2 separate regions of the Homo sapiens genome follow, and region 1 is linked to region 2. The links come from fine-mapping of genetic effects on gene expression. A gene starts in region 2. The other region holds a variant in brackets. All regions are shown on one strand. Distances are between the middles of the regions.

Region 1 (8,310 bases), 84 kb after region 2:
TGTTGGTCTGAGTGACAGCGAGGGAGCCCGGGTGCTGCCCGGTGCTCCTGCCAGCACAGCCGGCCAGTGGCTCGAGGGGGCGGCAGAGCTCAGCTTTCAGGAGCCAGGCCAGGCCCGGACAGATGCCTCCCGTCCAGAGAAGTGCGCATCTGCCTGGGCCTCTGTTCCCTTGGAGCAAAGTGGGGTGGCCCTAGGGGAGTGATTTGGGGCCACAGGTGGGCAGGAAAGAGGCTTGGGAGGTGGGAGACAGCCTGCAGCTCTCCCATGAGACAGTGGGGTGAGGAGAGCAGGGCCCGTCAGGCAGCCCCGTGTCCTTGGAGGTGGCCGTGGCACCAGGACCATGGTCCTCCTCGGCACTGGGCAGAGCTGGCTGAGAGAGGGCCGACCTCACTGCCGGGGCCCTTCAGGGCTGTGGAGAGGGCCCCTGGTAGCAGGGCAGGGAGGGCGCCGCTGGGGCGTGTGCTCCTGCGAGCGGCGATCTCAGCTGGAGCGCGTGGGTGGCAGTGGCTGTGATGCTGAGAAGGTCTCGGGCCAAGCTCCTGCTGGTGGGAGGTGCCTCCCTGCCACCCCCTGCCCACCTACCTCCCCTTCTCCTCAGGCCACTTCCCTGCCCTTCCTGGGTCTGGATCCAGGGCCTGGACCTGGATGACACTGGGGCTTCAGGGACCCCCTGCTGGACGCTGACTTTTGAAGACCTGAGCAGCCCCTCACAGGAGAGCTGTACTCCAGCTCTTGGTGTCTTATTCCCCTCCCCCAGGTGCGCAGGCAGCAGCGAGCAGGCGGAGGGAGGCGGGCGGAGCCCCTGGAGGAGGCGCTGGGCCTGGCTGGGGTCCTGCCGCCGGCAGTGGGGGGCCCCCAGGAGCCGGCTGAGCTGCGGCTGCCCCGCCCCCGCATGGCCACCTCACCCCTCTCCCACCGCGCCTGGAGCTTCACAGACGTGATCTCATCCAGCCGCTGGGACCCCCGGGGAGGTGGGCCGGGGTGGAGGGGCGGGGCAAGGGGGCTCTCGGCCTTTGCCGAAGCAGCCCCTCCGCTTTGATTTGAGCGGTTGGGAGAAACTGAGGCCGGGTGGCTGCTCAGGCAGAGGATGCAGCCACCCACCCTCCCCCTGCCTGTGGCCGTGTTTGTCAGGAAAGCGTAGCAGGCTGAGGGATCTGGGTGGCCGTCCACTCTGGCCGGAGGAGCCGCCCTCTGCTGTCCCTTTCCTGTGCCCCGTGGTGCTGGCCTGGGGCCGTCCCCCACGAGGCCTCCACTGGAGTCTGGAGTCTGGGGCTGGGGTGCAGCCTGGCAGCTCCTCGGTGCCCCTGACCCTGCCTGGGCTGTGAGTCAGGTTCCCGCAGGGATGCAGCCGGGCCTGTCTGCGTCCAGAGCCCGTGGTCCCCTCTGCTCTCGCGCCAAGCGCCGTTAATGGCTTCTCCCAGCTACTGAACCGGCAGCTGCCTCCAGTGCTGGCGGCCTCCGCTCCTCCGGGCCGCCCCCGCCCCCGCGTCCTGGCCCCGCGCACTCAGGCTTGCGTCGCTGCTGGCGGCGCGGCCTCGGCTCAGGTTTCCCGGCGAGCGAACGGCCCTCCCCACGCTGCTTGTGGAGGGCGCCCGGGCCTGCAGACCGCCCCAATCTCCCTGGCGGCCATCCACCCCCGCGGCCGCCTGCATGCCTGCCTCCGAGGGGGCTGCTGACTGGGCTGGGGCTGGCCCTCGGGTCTGGTCCCTTTCCACTGAGGAGGGAAACGGGCGCGCCCTGCTACCCAGGCTGTGGGTGGGTGTGTGTAGCCTGACTGCCGCGTGCCCCTTGGCCGGCTTGAAGGCCCTCCTAGGCCTGGCCTGCTGCACTCAGTTGTCCGGTTTGGGAGAGGAGAGACCCTGGGGTCAGTGATGAGGGGCAGGGAAGCCAGGGCCCTCATGGGGGTACCCTGGGCTCTCGGATGAAGCAGGGCTGGGCAGTGGCTGGTAGGTGGGAGTGGCCTCTTCAGAGCCGCGTCCTCCTGCTTGTGGGCTGCAAGGGTGGTGGGGGCCCTGGCCTGCTGTGCCCACTCGGGGCCAGTGTCCTTGGCAGCTGGAACCCGGGTGGGCAGCGGGGGGTGCTCTACAGGGCTCTTGAGCGGAGGCTTTGCCCTGGGGCTGGCAGAGCAGCCTGTGGAGTGGAGCCGGGGAAGGCATTGGAGGGCAAGGTCTGTTGGGCAGGTGGTGACGGCTGCAGGCTCTGGGCCCTCTGGGGAGGCCGGCTGGGGAGAGCTGGGTCTGGGTGTACGTCCCAAGGCCGGGGCTGTTCTGCAGGGGACGGGAGTCCCAGGTACGTGTGTGTGCACGGATCAGGACTGGGGGAAAAGTCTCCAGAATGAGATTTTGGAGGTGTCCGGAGTTGGGGGCTGAGCGGGTGTGGACCTCTAGAGCCCTGTCCCCACCCCACCTGGAAGTTGTAGCTCTGAGTTGTGGGGCTCAGAGCAGGCCGAGGAGGGGTGAGCACTGGTGGGTGTCGGTGGGGGGTGTTTGGGGTGTCATGCCCCAAGCCTGTGCCCCACCCCTAGCATCCTGGTTTCTGGGAGCCCCTGCTTATGAGATGCCAGGCGTTGGGGTGCTCTGCCTGGGAACAGCTATTGTCCCTGGGTCAGCCCCAGCAGAGACCGAGGCAGGCCAGGTCTGGAGGAACCCCTGGGTCGGTAGTGGCTTCTCTCCAGCCTGCAGACCCCCAGGAGGTGACTTGCTGCCCTCCCAGCTGTGGAGGTGCAAGGACCCCTGGGTCAGTAGTGGCTTCTCTCCAGTGGTGGAGGTGCCGGGAGAAGGCCGAGCTGTGTGCCCAGCCTCTAGAAGGGCAGATGCGTGGTTGGCGGGAGCCGGGCCGGAGCTGAGGGCGTCTGGGCTGGTGGCTCCTCCTGCCTGGGGCCCCACCTTGGGCTGGGGGTTCGCTCAGCTGGTTTGGACTTTGAGGAGGAGGAGACTAAGCAGGACCTGGCTTTCTCCCCTCTGGCCCCGGCGCCAGGGCCCAGCACCCCTGCTGGAACCTTCAGTAGGGTGAGATGCAGCAGGTGAGCCTCCCGCCCTGGCCTTGCCCTGAGCACTTCAACAGATAAAACCCTGAGGAAGAGGAGGCGGCCTCACGTCGCACAGGAAGGCCGTGTGGCGCTCCGAGACAGGCGGGCGTTTTGTGCAGGGGAGCGGCGCGAACGCTGAACACTACCCGCATTGTAATCGGAGAGGGGCTGGGGAAGAGAGAGACGGAGCGAGGGCGGCTGACCCCACGCTCCCGGGGGACAGGTGGGAGAGGCGGAACGAGGAGAGAGTGAAGGATTCCAGAGGTGGGCCGGCTTCCTCTCTCGCAGACAGACACGGGAGGAGGCGGGCAGCGGGCCAGCCCCATACCTGCAGTTCCAATCTGTGGTCCTGACAGCTGCAGCCACTTTGGGGAGGGGGAGGGAAGGGGGCTCATCGAGAGCGGAAAAATCCCAGCCGACACATCAGCCGGTTGCGGCCTGTGTCCGGTGCAGTCTGGGCTGGGGGCCTGTCCTTGGGGCTGGGCGGCCCCCAGGAGAGCCCTGATGCTGGGTCTGTGTGTGCCCCCGGCCGGCCGGCCGGGGCTCTCCGTGCGGGGCCTGACCCGGAGGGGTCACATGTGTTTCCTGGCAGCCCGCAGGTGCTGCGCTGGGCGGGGCGGGTGGTGGGCGCAGGCGACCGTGATGAATCATGTGTCCCGCCAGCAGCTCGTTCCCCAGGCCGGGGACAGGAGCTGACAGCTGAGGCCCAGCAGAGCGTTTCCAGCCCAGCTCGGCTCGCAGGGGCGGCTGCTGGCCCAGGGTGCAGGCTGGGGCCCCTTCCGTCCCAGCTGCCTCTGTGGGGCACAGGCGGAGGGAGCCCTGGGTCTCTGTGGAGGTGAGGCCAGCACTCTGGGAAGGGAGCCAGGGGCTGTGGTGGGCAGGGAGCACCTGCCACTCGTCTGCCCGGCGGCTGTGAGCTACGAGTGGATTCGGGTGGGCTGCCGCAGGCCTGGGGGTCAGCCCACGCCACCCCCGGTCTGGTTTGAATTTCTGGAGCAGTGGAGGGTGACGGAGTGTTCCTCCCCCGCCCCTCCCCTCTTGCTGGCTGGCGGGCCGGGCCCTCGGCCGCTGCTACCGGTGCAGCTCAGGGAGCGGCTGGGCTGGCTGCCCAGGCCTGAGGCTGGCCAAGCTGCAGCCGCGGTCGGAGTCAGGCCCGCAGCGGAGGGCTTGGCTGTGAGTGCTGCACCCCAACCAGCAGGGCCCTGGGGATCCTTTCAGCTCCGAGGCCTCCAGGTCGTTGTTCCCTGTTCACTTTCTTCTAGCCTCGTTAGACACCCCAAACTCTGACCCCAGTCCACGGGGGCTCTGAC[G/A]TCTCTTTCCCCTGCACTCCCTCTTGACCCTGCCCAGACCTCCCCATGCTGGCCCGCACCTTCCCACCTGCTCCTGTCTGGCCTCCTGCATTCCCGCTCTGAGCTGGCTCTGCCCTGTCCTTGGTGCCGGCCGCCGACGCCCCGCACCTGCCCGCTCAGGCCAGCAGCCCCTGATGTCCCTGCCCTGGAGACTTTCACTATCTTCCATCCCATTTGTCCCCAACGTTGACCGGCCACTGAGGTTGGGGGTTCATGTGGAGGTTTGCAACCCCCACTAGGCCCAGGTCTGGAAATGGGAGGCCTGGAGGTGAGGGGTAGGTGGGCTATGGACCCTCCCTACAGAACTACACCCAGTGCCCAGTGGAGGGAGGGCTGGCGTGGGCGCCGTGGGCCTTAGGGTGCTATGCAGAGTGCCCGGCCTGGCCATGCTCCTGGGTCCACCCTGCTCCTCACTCACCAGCGCCTTGGTGCCTGGGAGGGTGGCGGGGCGGGGGTGTGAGGAAAGCTCCCAAGAAGGGAAGGGGCTGCGTCAGCCCCTAGCTGCATGTCCGTGTCCCCCGGGCCCTGGCTTCCCGGCGGGCGGAGGCTTCTGCAGTGACTGAGCTTGTCCTCTCCTCCCCTCCCTCTGGCCAGCTGTGGGCTCCTGCAGGATTAGGGAGAGGAAATTTGGGGTTGGGTTTCTCTCTGAACGAAACCTGCCGTTGTGACTTTTTATCCTGTTATATTTCTATCAGATTGGACTCAGCCCCCCTCTAGCCCTTAATGGCTCTGGCTTTGAGAATTTCCTCCAAAATTACACCACTGCTTCCTGCTCCGCCATTCCCTGGAGCCTGTCTTTGCAGAGGAGGGGCAGTCCTGGGCCAGCCCTGCACCGATGCCCACGTGGGCCACAGCACCTGGTCTCCCCCCGAGGGTGCGTCCCTGCCTGTGCTAGCGGGGAACTGGGGCCGGCCGCCGCCCTGACGCCCGCACCTGGCACCATCAGCCATTGTCCACCCAGCCGGAAGTTAGGCTGTGGCCTGGCAGGGTTGGGGGGAGGTGGTCCACACAGCACCGCCCTTCTTCTCTCTGTGCCCACTGATCTCACACCACTCAATGGTAATTGTCACCTGCAGGGTTTTAATGGCCAGCCAGCTGTGCACAGAGCACTGTGGGGGCTAAACCCACCTCCTGTGGTGGGCGGGGTCTTCAGGGGGCTGGATGGGCCGTGGTGGTGGGAGGAGGATGGCCAGGGGTCCTCCTTCCCACGTGGGCAGTGCTTCCAGGGGCCAAGTGGCACTGGTGCATGAGGAGATGCCCCTCTCTCCAGTCAAGGCTCGTGGAGGCAGGACACCCACTGCCCTCGCTGGGGCTGGGAGCCCCCCCCTCCGCTGGGCAGCACAGCTCGCTCCACTCCTTGTGGCCACCTGCAGCGCCCTCCTCACCCTCAGGGCCCCCGGGTGCCCGACAGGCCCGAGTCGGGGGCACCCTTGCCCTGCTGCTGCCTCTGTCCCTGCCGCTGCCTCCCTGTCCCTGCCTTACAGCGTCCCTGCCTTGTGCCTCGCCCTCCCCATCTTCTGCCACGCAGCTCCTCCCCCACCCTCTCTCCCGGCGTGGCTCCCTTGTCCCCACCCCACAGCTTCCCGATATGAGGCTCTGTGGGTGAGCTAAGCCCATCCTCACCGCCTCAGCCCAGGGAGGGGTGGCCCTGAGCCTGGAAAGTGGGGGCTTCCCAGGGAGCCGGGGTACTTGGCCCAAGGAGGATGGGACCACCAAGGGTGGGAATGGAGGCTCAGGCTGGGGGCTGGGGGTGGATTCTGAACCTTTCATGAGGACAGTTGGCCTCCATATTTGGAAGATACTGTTTTGTTTTTAATTATACAAAATTTTCAGACTTTATATTATCATATCAAAAACACAAGATGCCATCACACAGTGGCCGGAAGAAAAGCCAGCGCAGAAAGTTCCAGTGGGCCCGGGCAGGTGCTGGGGCCAGCGCAGAGTCCCGCTGCCGGCGCCTGTCTGTACGTCCGTCTGTCCCTCGGCCCCGCTCGCAGCCAGGGCTGGCCTGGGGGCATGCTTGCGGTGGGCCTTGCCCAGCTCAGGTCCAAGGTGGGGGCTGTCTGCAGTCACCCCGGGCGTCCACCTCCCCCAGCAGCGTCTGCCTCCTGGCTGCTGCCGGCCACCTCCTAACTGCGAATCGCTGTCTTTCTGTCGCGGTCCTTGCTCTGCAGAGGGGAGGGAGGAGTGTCAGGCCCCGGCAGAGCCCAGCGCCAGTCTGCGCCTCTCTGGCCTCCCTGCTGGGTGCCATCTCAGGTGGCCAGCGCCAAGGCACCTCCTTCCCGGCTCTCCCCAGCTTCCCTCAAGCGTTTTGGGGAGGGGAGCATACTGCTGCACAGCCGAAATTGTAAAATTAAATTTCCCAGATGTTCAGGCCCCAGGAGCTCGCGCGTGCTGTCTGGAGAGGAAATGGGGATTGGGAAAAGCCGTGCCGTATTTTCTCCCTGCTCACCCTGCTTTTCCGGTGCCACCAAGCACAGCAGGAGCTGTAAATCACAGCTGGCCAGCGTCTCCTGCAGGGGCCCTCACCCCCAGCCCCCACATCTCCTGCCAGCCTCTGCCTTCGTGTCCCATGGCCCACGTCTCGGGCAGCCCTACAGGACCTGGTGTCTTGGTGTGCGGCCTAGGTGGGGGACGGACAGCAGGTGCCCAAGATGGCTTAAGCCAGTGCTGGGCCGCAGGGGCTAAGAACCCGGGGTCCTTCCTCTCTTGCCTTGCAGCCTCTTACTTTCTGAACTCAGCTGTTTTCACTCCGCCTTTCAACTTACTGAAAAGGGAAGCTTGCAGCGGCCTGGTCCAGCTCCCCAGCCTCCCCGCCCTGGGTGGGCCCCTTTGGCCATCCCTAGCTCTTACCCCTCATGCAGCTCCCTGCAGGGGACTCCACACTCCACTGGGAGCCGAGTGTCCTAGGGACGCCCTGGAGAGGAGCCCCAGGAGAAGGCCCCAGCCCCCGGCAGGCCTGTGTTACAGGTGTGCCTGCCTGTGCCCTGTTGGGGAGCCCTGCCCGTGTGGCCTCGCCTCCTCTGCCTGGCAGGTGTGGGCTGAGGGGCGCGTTGGAGGCCCCCCTCGGCGCCCCACGGCCCGTGCTCACCAACTTTCTCTGGTTGCTGAGGCAGAAGGTGCAGATCTGTTTGGGCTGGGTGTTCTCGCCGTCGCGGGCGGGAGGCGGCGGGGGCGGCGGCGGGGGGCTGCCGGCGCGCGCCGCGTGGAAGAAGGCGGGCCCGGAGTGGCAGGGCTGTCCGTCGCCGCAGGCCTCGCCCGCCAGCAGCACGTTGCCCAGGTGCGAGATGTAGCTGGAGGCCAGGCGCAGCGTCTCAATCTTGGAGAGCTTGCGGTCGGCGGGCTCGGTGGGGATCAGCGTGCGCAGCGCCGTGAAGGCCGTGTTCACGCTGTTGGTGCGGTCTCGCTCGCGCGCGTTCGCCGTGTGCCGCTGCCGGGGCTCACGGCCTGGCCGGCCCCCTGGCCCCCCGCCCCCGGCCCGCCGGCCCCCCGCCCTCCGCCGGGCGCCCTGGAGGCCGCAGCGCGCCGCGTGCACGCGACAGGGTTTCTCGTCGGAGCCCGAGCTGTCGCTGCCGCGGTCCTCGTCCTCCGACAGCGGGCTCACCTCGGGGTACAGGTAGCGGCCCGGCGGCGCCGGGCGCAGCGTGGCGAAGGACATGGGGCCGGCGGGGGCGCGGCGTCAGCTCTGTCGCGCGCTGCTCATGCCGCCTCCTGCGGCCGCCGCGGGCCTCGCGGGCCGGCCGGGGCGAGGCGCGGGGTCTCGGCTGCGCCCCGCGGTGGCAGCTGCCGGGCGTCGCGCGCACATGTGCGTCCCGGGCCGGAGCGGGGCCCCGAGCTGCGCCTTTATAGCGGCGTCCCGGCCCCTCCCCCGCGCACGCCCCGCCCCTCTCAGCCCGGAGGCTCCTCGAGCAGCGCCCGCCGCGTCCCTCGGCC
Region 2 (8,269 bases):
CGGCCCCAGGGGAGGAGGCCGAAGGAGCGAGTGGAGCCCTCCTCTCCAGGGAGAGGCGGGGCTGGAGTCAACGCCACCACCACCCCAAGCCGGACGCCGGGAAAGGGCGCCTACCAGGAGGAGCCACGCACACCCCAGGGCTTCACGGTGCCCGCGACCGCAAGAGCCAAGTCAGATCCCAGGGGAGTGGCCGGGACGGCTCTGCTCGGAGGGGCGCCGCCCTCTCGGTACCGTCAGGTGGGCGACTCGGGAGCCGTCCGGTCCCTGCGCCTCCCGGTCCCGCGCCCAGTGCGCTCCCGCTCCAGTGCCGGCTTCCCGCCACGCCGGGACACCGCCGTCCGGCCCAGGGACGCCACCTCAGTCCGGAGCGCGCAGGACCCGGCAGCAGCCACGACCCGACTCACCCGTGGCGGTTCCGGGCCCGCCCCCGGCATGGCCCACGACCGGAAGTCCCGCCCCGGAAGCTGGTCGGCGGGCGGGCGGGCGTTGAGAGGAACCGGGGGGTTGTCGGTCTATAAGCCTCGCCCGTTCCGCTCCCTGGGGCTTCCCCGAGCGCCGTCGGTGGTCATGGCTGCCCCAGCCTCCCGGCAGGTCCGACGCAGAGCCCGGGCAGCGCCGCGGCCCCGCTCGGCCGAGGACTGGTGGTGGGACCGGCTGGCGCCGAGGGGCTCGGGGTACCACCTGCTGCAGTCCGACAGCATGCTGCTGGTGCTGTCCGAACCCGGCCCCGCCCGGCCCCGCGCACAGCGGCGCGCTTCCCGCCGCACTCCCCGGCAGCCGCCCCGGGGCCCCAGCGCCGCGGCCAAGCCCAAGGCCGGGCTCAGGTCCGAGGCGGCGGCCGCGCCCGCACCCGCACCGGCACCCACGCCCACGCCCGAGGAAGGGCCCGACGCGGGCTGGGGAGACCGCATTCCCTTGGAAATCCTGGTGCAGATTTTCGGGTTGTTGGTGGCGGCGGACGGCCCCATGCCCTTCCTGGGCAGGTAACGCTGGTGCCGGGCCCGCCGCCGAGCGTAGCGGCTTGGGCCAGACGTGGTCCGAGCGGTGGCCCGGGCGGGGGCGGAGGGCGAAAGCATCGGAGCGCGCACCGCTCAGTCCGAGAGCGCAGCCCCTTAGGCGCCCAGTTGGAGTCCCAGGAGCCCGGCTTTGAGCCGGGGTGTCTACTGCGCTGCGAGAGGGGGGCATCGCCTACGGAGGGGCCGGCACCCTCAGCACGCTGTCCTCCCAGGGCTGCGCGCGTGTGCCGCCGCTGGCAGGAGGCCGCTTCCCAACCCGCGCTCTGGCACACCGTGACCCTGTCGTCCCCGCTGGTCGGCCGGCCTGCCAAGGGCGGGGTCAAGGCGGAGAAGAAGCTCCTTGCTTCCCTGGAGTGGCTTATGCCCAATCGGTGAGGGGTTCCCTCTCTTCCTTACCCCTGGCTCCAGGCTCCTTCCGTCTCCCTGCACCAAGGTGTTGGGTGGGAAGGACTCGTGTGGGAACATTAGTGCAGCTCTGCCTCCGCTGTCGGCCCAGGTTTTCACAGCTCCAGAGGCTGACCCTCATCCACTGGAAGTCTCAGGTACACCCCGTGTTGAAGGTGAGAGCTCCAGGCTGTCCTGCACATCAGCTGTGACACTCTGGGACTGTTCAGTACTCTAGGAAGTGGGTCAGGCACCTTGGGGGCCCAACGCTGCTCCGTGGGGATGTCTGCCTGCCTGCCTGGTTCTCTTTTCCTGCTGTTTCCTCCAGCAGGGAGGTATCAGAGGCGGGGACACCCAAGTAGGCCTGGCATGGGCAGAAAGGAGGTCACAGCTAAGGCGGTAGAGTGGGGTTGGCACCAGCCACTTGTCTGTTTCCCTTGTGGATCTTAGCCTGTCGTCTCCCAACCCCAGCTGCCCCTCTGTCTCCCCGCAGCTGGTAGGTGAGTGCTGTCCTCGGCTCACTTTCCTCAAGCTCTCCGGCTGCCACGGTGTGACTGCTGACGCTCTGGTCATGCTAGCCAAAGCCTGCTGCCAGCTCCATAGCCTGGACCTACAGCACTCCATGGTGAGCCCTGTGTCCCAAGGGGCCCTGAAAAAACCCAGGCCGGGGTGACGGGTGCTCTTGTATTGGGGCCCCAGGTGGAGTCCACAGCTGTGGTGAGCTTCTTGGAGGAGGCAGGGTCCCGAATGCGCAAGTTGTGGCTGACCTACAGCTCCCAGACGACAGCCATCCTGGGCGCACTGCTGGTAAGTTGGCATTGGTGGGAGCAGAGGCAGATGCTGAGCTGGGGACTGCCAGGCCACTGACCCTGTGACCTACCCCCTCCCCCCATCTCTGCAGGGCAGCTGCTGCCCCCAGCTCCAGGTCCTGGAGGTGAGCACCGGCATCAACCGTAATAGCATTCCCCTTCAGCTGCCTGTCGAGGCTCTGCAGAAAGGCTGCCCTCAGCTCCAGGTACCTGGCGCCCTGCCTCTCCCACCTGTCACACCCTCCCCCATCTACAGCCTGGACCTTGCCCCCAGGTGCTGCGGCTGTTGAACCTGATGTGGCTGCCCAAGCCTCCGGGACGAGGGGTGGCTCCCGGACCAGGCTTCCCTAGCCTAGAGGAGCTCTGCCTGGCGAGCTCAACCTGCAACTTTGTGAGCAACGAGGTCCTGGGCCGCCTACTCCACGGCTCTCCCAACCTGCGCTTACTGGATCTTCGTGGCTGTGCGCGCATCACGCCGGCTGGCCTTCAGGATCTGCCATGTCGGGGTCAGCAGTCCTGGGTGGTGGCCGGGCGGGTGAGGTGTGGGGGCCCTTGTCACCTTGTAGCTTATGCTCACTCCTTTCACTGCAGAGCTGGAGCAGCTTCATCTGGGCCTGTATGGCACGTCAGACCGGCTGACTCTAGCCAAGGAGGGCAGCCCCTTTTTGACCCAGAAGTGGTGCCATACACTGCGAGAACTGGACTTGAGTGGCCAGGGGTTCAGTGAGAAGGACCTGGAGCAGGCCCTGGCTGCCTTCTTAAGCACCCCTGGGGGCTCACACCCAGCCCTGTGCTCTCTTAACCTCAGGGGCACCCGGGTCACACCAAGCACTGTCAGGTCAGCATCCCCTACCCCAGTCCCTGGAGCCAGTGTGGCTGTCACTGTGTCTGCCTGGGGCCTGGAAGTTGTGTCCTGCCTGGCCTGAGACCTCCAGGGGTCAGAGGGGCATGCATACTGTCCAAGCCCCTGCGTGGGGTGGGCCTGAGGACACCAGGGGAACTGGGCTTGGCCTTGGTGGCTATGGGTGGCAGAGCCAGGTGTCGAACACCAGCAGGCACAGCTCCCTAGCCTGGCCCAGCCCTTCTGAGGCAACAGCTCAACTTCCTGTGGTCTGCCCTCCCCACAGCTCTGTGATCAGCGGCTGCCCGGGCCTGCTCTACCTCAACCTGGAGTCCTGCCGCTGCCTTCCCCGGGGTCTGAAGCGGGCCTACCGGGGCCTGGAGGAAGTCCAGTGGTGTCTGGAGCAGCTGCTCACCAGCCCCTCACCCAGCTAGGCAGCCACAGACCTGGGACACCTCAGCCAGCTTGCCCACCCTCCACCTTTGCCCAATTTCAGATATTTGAGCATTTTGTTAAAATAAAACATTTTTAGGAGTTCTGTGTGTGTGGTCCTCAGGGTAGGGTTGGGCAACAGGTTATACCTGATGGAGCCACTGGGGCTACAGCCGGCCCAGAGCCTGTGTGTTGTGGGGTCAGGGTGGTCCCATGGGCTCTTGAGCCTGCAGGTGGCCATGCCTTTGCCTGCCCACTGCTGGGTCCAGTGTGTGTGTTCCGTCCTCGGGGACACTGGTGAGCTTGTCTGTGGTTGCATGTGGGTGGGGGGTGGGAGGGGGTGGGGCCCCGCCCAGCTGTGGGGCTCACTGAGTGGTCGCCGCCTGCAAATTTCTCTCCAGCTCAGGCCTAGGGTGTCCACCCATCCACCCTTCACATGGGGACTGTGAACAGGCCATACAGGGGGCCTCCAGTGGATGGACTGGCCAAGAAGTTAATGCCTACCGCAGGACCTCACCCTGGACTCCCTAAGAGGTGGTCAACAGAGCAGCCCCTTCTAGAACCTGCCCAGAACTTCTAGAACCCATCCGCGGTCCACCCTGGGCCGCTCCCTGGCCTCGCTGCCCTGTCAGTCGCCTGTGAGCTCCTGCTCCTTCCTGGGCCTGCAGCCCTGGAGAATTTGCTCACCGAGGTAGGAGTGCCGCTGTGGGCAGTGGGCGGCGGCAGCGGACGAGCGGCCAGGCTGACCACCTCTGCCTGACTCAGATGCCTAAGGGCCGGGCCGGCAGCCTGCCCACGACCTCCATCGGCTGGCGCTTCCAGCTCTGGTTCCTAGGACTCACCTGCCCGGAGCGCCACCTGGCCAGACGCCTCAAGAACAATAGCTTCTACCCATTCGTGCAGCAGGAGCCAAACGGTGCGCGCGAGGCTGGGCGGGGCGGGGCGGGGCGGGGCTGGGAAGGGCGGGGCGGGGGAGGAGGGAGACGGGCCCGAGGCCTGAATGGGGCGGAGCCAGGTGGGCAGAGGCAGGGCCAGGGCCCTGGGTGGGGCCGGCCGGTGCTCCTGGGGACGGAGAGGCCGCAGGCGAGACGTCGCCTCCGCGAGCCCTGCGCGGACCCAGCTAGTCCGGGCCAAGCCTTGGCACCGCCACCCCCGGCTGCGGGCAGGGCCGGGGCGTCCTCACGCGCCGCGCCACCCCCAGTCTTCGTGCTCGAATACTACCTGGACACACTGTGGAAGGGGATGCTGCTCTTCATCATCAGCGTGGTCCTGGTCAGCTTCAGCTCCCTGAGAGAGGTGTGAGCCCCTGGGCCCGACCCCCACCGCCCTCCTCCCCTGAGGGCCGGCCCCGCGCCGCTCAGACTCTCCGCGTGGCGCCCGCAGGTGCAGAAGCAAGAGACCTGGGTCTTCCTCGTGTACGGCGTGGGCGTGGGCCTGTGGCTCGTGATCTCGTCGCTGCCGCGGCGCCGCCTGGTGCTGAACCACACGCGCGGCGTGTACCACTTCTCCATCCAGGGCCGCACCGTGTGCCAGGGCCCCTTGCATCTGGTCTACGTGCGCCTGGCGCTCAGCTCCGATGGTAACGGGCCGGGAGGGTGCGCCAGGGACGGGGAGGCAGCTTGGGAGGTCGGAGGGGCGGCCAGGCTGGCTAAGTCCGCTCTCCCCGCAGCCCACGGAAGGTGCTTCTTCCACCTGGTCCTCGGCGGCCACAGGTTGGAGCCCCTGGTGCTGGTGCAGCTGTCGGAGCACTACGAGGTGGGTCCCGCCCAGACACGCGCCCTCCTCAGGACACGATGACACCGATCACTGTTTAAGGTCTTTGGGTGGGGCCGTTTCCGCACGCAGAGGGTAAATACAACACGGTCTTCGGTGCTGGGGGCCGTGGAGAGGGCGCCGGGGCTTCGGGCAGGACGGGGGATGCAGCCTGGTAGGGGAAGGAGACGCCTGGACGGCGACTCGGGTCTGTCCTGTCCCGGCCCCAGTTGAGCGCCACCTGCTCCCACAGCAAATGGAATACTTGGGCCGTTACATCGCCCGGAAACTCAACATCAACTACTTCGACTACCTGGCCACCTCCTACCGGCACGTGGTTCGCCACTGGCCACCCCCTGGCGCTGGCACTGTGATGGGCAAGAGCCCCATGGGTCACAAGCCCAGCTCCTCTCAGTCCAGCCTGGAGGTGTGACTCTGAGGGCCTCCCCCACCTCGGGACTGTGTTCTCGGTAACCTCCCAGCCCCACTCTGGGGCAGATCAAATGTGAGTCCCACTCACTGGCCTTCCTTTCAATAAAGCTGCCTCAGCTTCCACACGGATCATTTTAGGGGGCAGGGGAGGCCCTCTGGTGCCTAGGTCTTCCACTGTTGCGCACTCCTAGGACCTCAGAGAGCCTGTGCCTTCCAGCTGACTGAAGCAAACCCCACAGCTTGTGTTCGAAGACAGGAACAGCTGAGAGCAAGGGATGGCATATAGCCAGGCCTCTGAGGTTCGGCCCATCACTAGAGAGGCTGGGAACTCCATCCCCTCTTAGCCAGCAGCACTTAACTTGTCCTACCTGACCTCAGAGGTGCTGACCAATGCGTGGAATCCAGGAGTCAGAATCTGGCCCATTCTGGACCCGGTGCCTGCTGCTACTCCAACCAGCAATGGGGTGGGGTGCGGCCAGAGAACAAGCCCTGTGCCTGGGGTGCATGCTTGCCCCAGTACCCACAAAGCTGCTGCCGCTTGCCTCCAAGGGGGTGGGCACAAGAGTCCCGGGCCAGGGTGCAGGGCCTCCTAGGAGGGAGGATGTGCAGTGCCCTGACACCCGCTCGCCATGCCCGCTGGAACCCCAGGCCCGCGCCCCTGACACCCGCTCACCGTGCCCACTGGAACCCCAGGCCTGCGCCCCTGACACCCACTTGCTGTGCCTGCTGGAACCCCAGGCCCACACTCTCCTGTCCAGTGGATCCCCCAGCTATCACTGCAGCACCTGAGGCCTCCTGAGTGCTGGGGGCTGTTGTGGAAGCCGAGAAGGCTGTGGGCCATGGGGTCCCAGGGAAAGCAGGACCTGGCTCTCCGGATCTTCAGGCATTATCAGCTGAACGTCCCTGCAACCAGGAGCAGCTACATAATTTGCAGGGTCCCATGCCAAATGAAAATTTGGAGCCCATTGTTAGGAAGTTAATAAGTGGGGTGCAGTGGTGTATACCTGTAGTCTCGGCTGCTCAGGAGGCTAAGGTGGGAGGACAGCTTAAACCCAGGAGTTCAAGGCTAGCCTGGACAACATAGTGAGACCCCAGTCTCTAATAAAATAAACAATAAAAATAAAAATAAAGTTATTAAGAATTTCAAGATAGACTGGGCATGGTGGCTCACGCCTGTCATCCCAGCACTTTGGGAGGCCAAGGCGGGCGGATCATCTGAGGTCAGGAGTTCAAGACCAGCCCGACCAACATGGTGAAACCCTGTCTCTACTAAAAATATAAAATTAGCTGGGTGTGGTGGTGCATCCCTGCAATCTCAGCTACTCGGGAGGCTGAAGGAATAGAATCGCTTGAACCTGGGAGGCAGAGGTTGCGGGTGAGCGGAGATTGAGCCATTGCACTCCAGCCTGGGTGACAGAGTGAGACTCTGTCCCAAAACGACAACGACAACAACAACAGCAACAAAAACTCAAGTATGGGGCCTTTCTGAGCCTGGGGCCCTGTGTGACTGCCCAGGTTGCAGGCTCGTGAAGCCAGTTCTGCCTGGAACCATGACTTAGAGTCTCTACTTGACCCCCAATCCCAAGGCTGCTCAAAACTCACTGGGCACACAGGCACCCTGGCCCATCTCTGGGGCAGGATCTGGGGGCTACTGAAGTGGCTTTAGGTAATCCCTGGAAGCAATTGTCATTAACAGCACAAGTGCAGGGACCTCCACTCCCCAGAAGATGGGGCTCAAGGTGTCCTACAGTGGCAGCACCAAACTTAGGTTTGGGTTGAGGGCTCTGTTTCACTCAGGCAGGCAAAGTCCCTCCTCCCTGGAGCTGGTGATCTAAGAGGGACCCAGAATGAAGAGTGGTTGGAGGGGCAGGGTCCCTCTGGCTGGGGAGCTTTGGGGGAAGGGCATCGTGGGCAAAGAGTAAACACAACACAAGGGCGTGATATAGGACTGAGCTGGGTGTGCTGGAGAAGCTGCAAGGGGATTGGGCTGGTCAGAGTAGAGAGGACAAGGGAGAAGGAGGCCTGAGATGAGGTGGGAAGGGCAGGCAGCGTCCTTGGAGGCCATAGCTCAGAGCTTTAGTCCTGTGTGCCATGGGAATCTGCTGGAGAGCTGTAAGCAGATATGCACTAAGACCCAGGGAGGGAGCGGTGGGGAAAGGCCAGGAGGCTGCAGGAATTGTGCACGGAGGAAAGGGAGCTGGAGGGGCAGAGGGGAACAGAGAGGAGCAAGGACCACAGACAGTTCTGAGCTCCGGCTCCGTGGAGGGGATTTGCTGCTGGGCGGGAAGTGGGCTGGGAAGAAAAGTGACTCGGGAGTCCAGAGTGTCTGGCCTGGGCACTGGGGCTGGTGGCTATGGGGAGAGGGGTTGGCAGTCAGGAGTTCTGAATTAGACAAGGCCTGAGGAGCTTACAGGACCTTGTGGGGGAGATTTTGAAAAGGCAGAAAGGCCCTGGGGAGAAAGGAAAGGGGGAAGCACAGACCTGAAACCATCATGCCCTGGGAGGTCCCTAAAGCTAAAGCACTAGATGAGATGTCTCTGGCAACGCAGAAGATGGGGGAGAACAGGAGGAGGGCCAAGGATGGAGCTCTGGCATCAGACACA

The links.
Region 1: its variant is fine-mapped to the expression of CATSPERQ in T cells (TOPMed, PIP 0.98).

Annotation. Positions count from the first base shown.
Region 1 is chr8:144,266,339-144,274,648 of GRCh38, reverse strand. The region is part of intron 3 of BOP1 (BOP1 ribosomal biogenesis factor); the gene reads left to right. It overlaps SCX (scleraxis bHLH transcription factor), which reads right to left and starts at 8,196. Exons shown (of 2, transcript NM_001080514.3): 1 at 7,469-8,196; 2 at 6,168-6,545. The coding sequence starts at 8,035. The coding sequence ends at 6,507. RefSeq lists enhancers at 2,361-3,004, 3,005-3,648, 6,294-7,059, 7,060-7,827 and silencers at 3,543-3,712, 8,073-8,262. The variant G/A (reference allele first, on the strand shown) is at 4,339.
Region 2 is chr8:144,350,746-144,359,014 of GRCh38, reverse strand. CATSPERQ (catsper channel auxiliary subunit theta) reads left to right here and starts at 4,084. Exons shown (of 6, transcript NM_001280561.2): 1 at 4,084-4,173; 2 at 4,248-4,398; 3 at 4,684-4,778; 4 at 4,866-5,061; 5 at 5,152-5,237; 6 at 5,488-5,787. The coding sequence starts at 4,248. The coding sequence ends at 5,667. It overlaps FBXL6 (F-box and leucine rich repeat protein 6), which reads left to right and starts at 543. Exons shown (of 9, transcript NM_012162.4): 1 at 543-983; 2 at 1,229-1,387; 3 at 1,513-1,576; 4 at 1,894-2,025; 5 at 2,100-2,207; 6 at 2,302-2,415; 7 at 2,484-2,715; 8 at 2,801-3,047; 9 at 3,337-3,584. The coding sequence starts at 568. The coding sequence ends at 3,484. SLC52A2 (solute carrier family 52 member 2) reads right to left here and starts at 402. Exons shown (of 5, transcript NM_001363118.2): 1 at 1-402. RefSeq lists silencers at 141-580, 601-820, 4,534-4,643 and an enhancer at 2,151-2,687.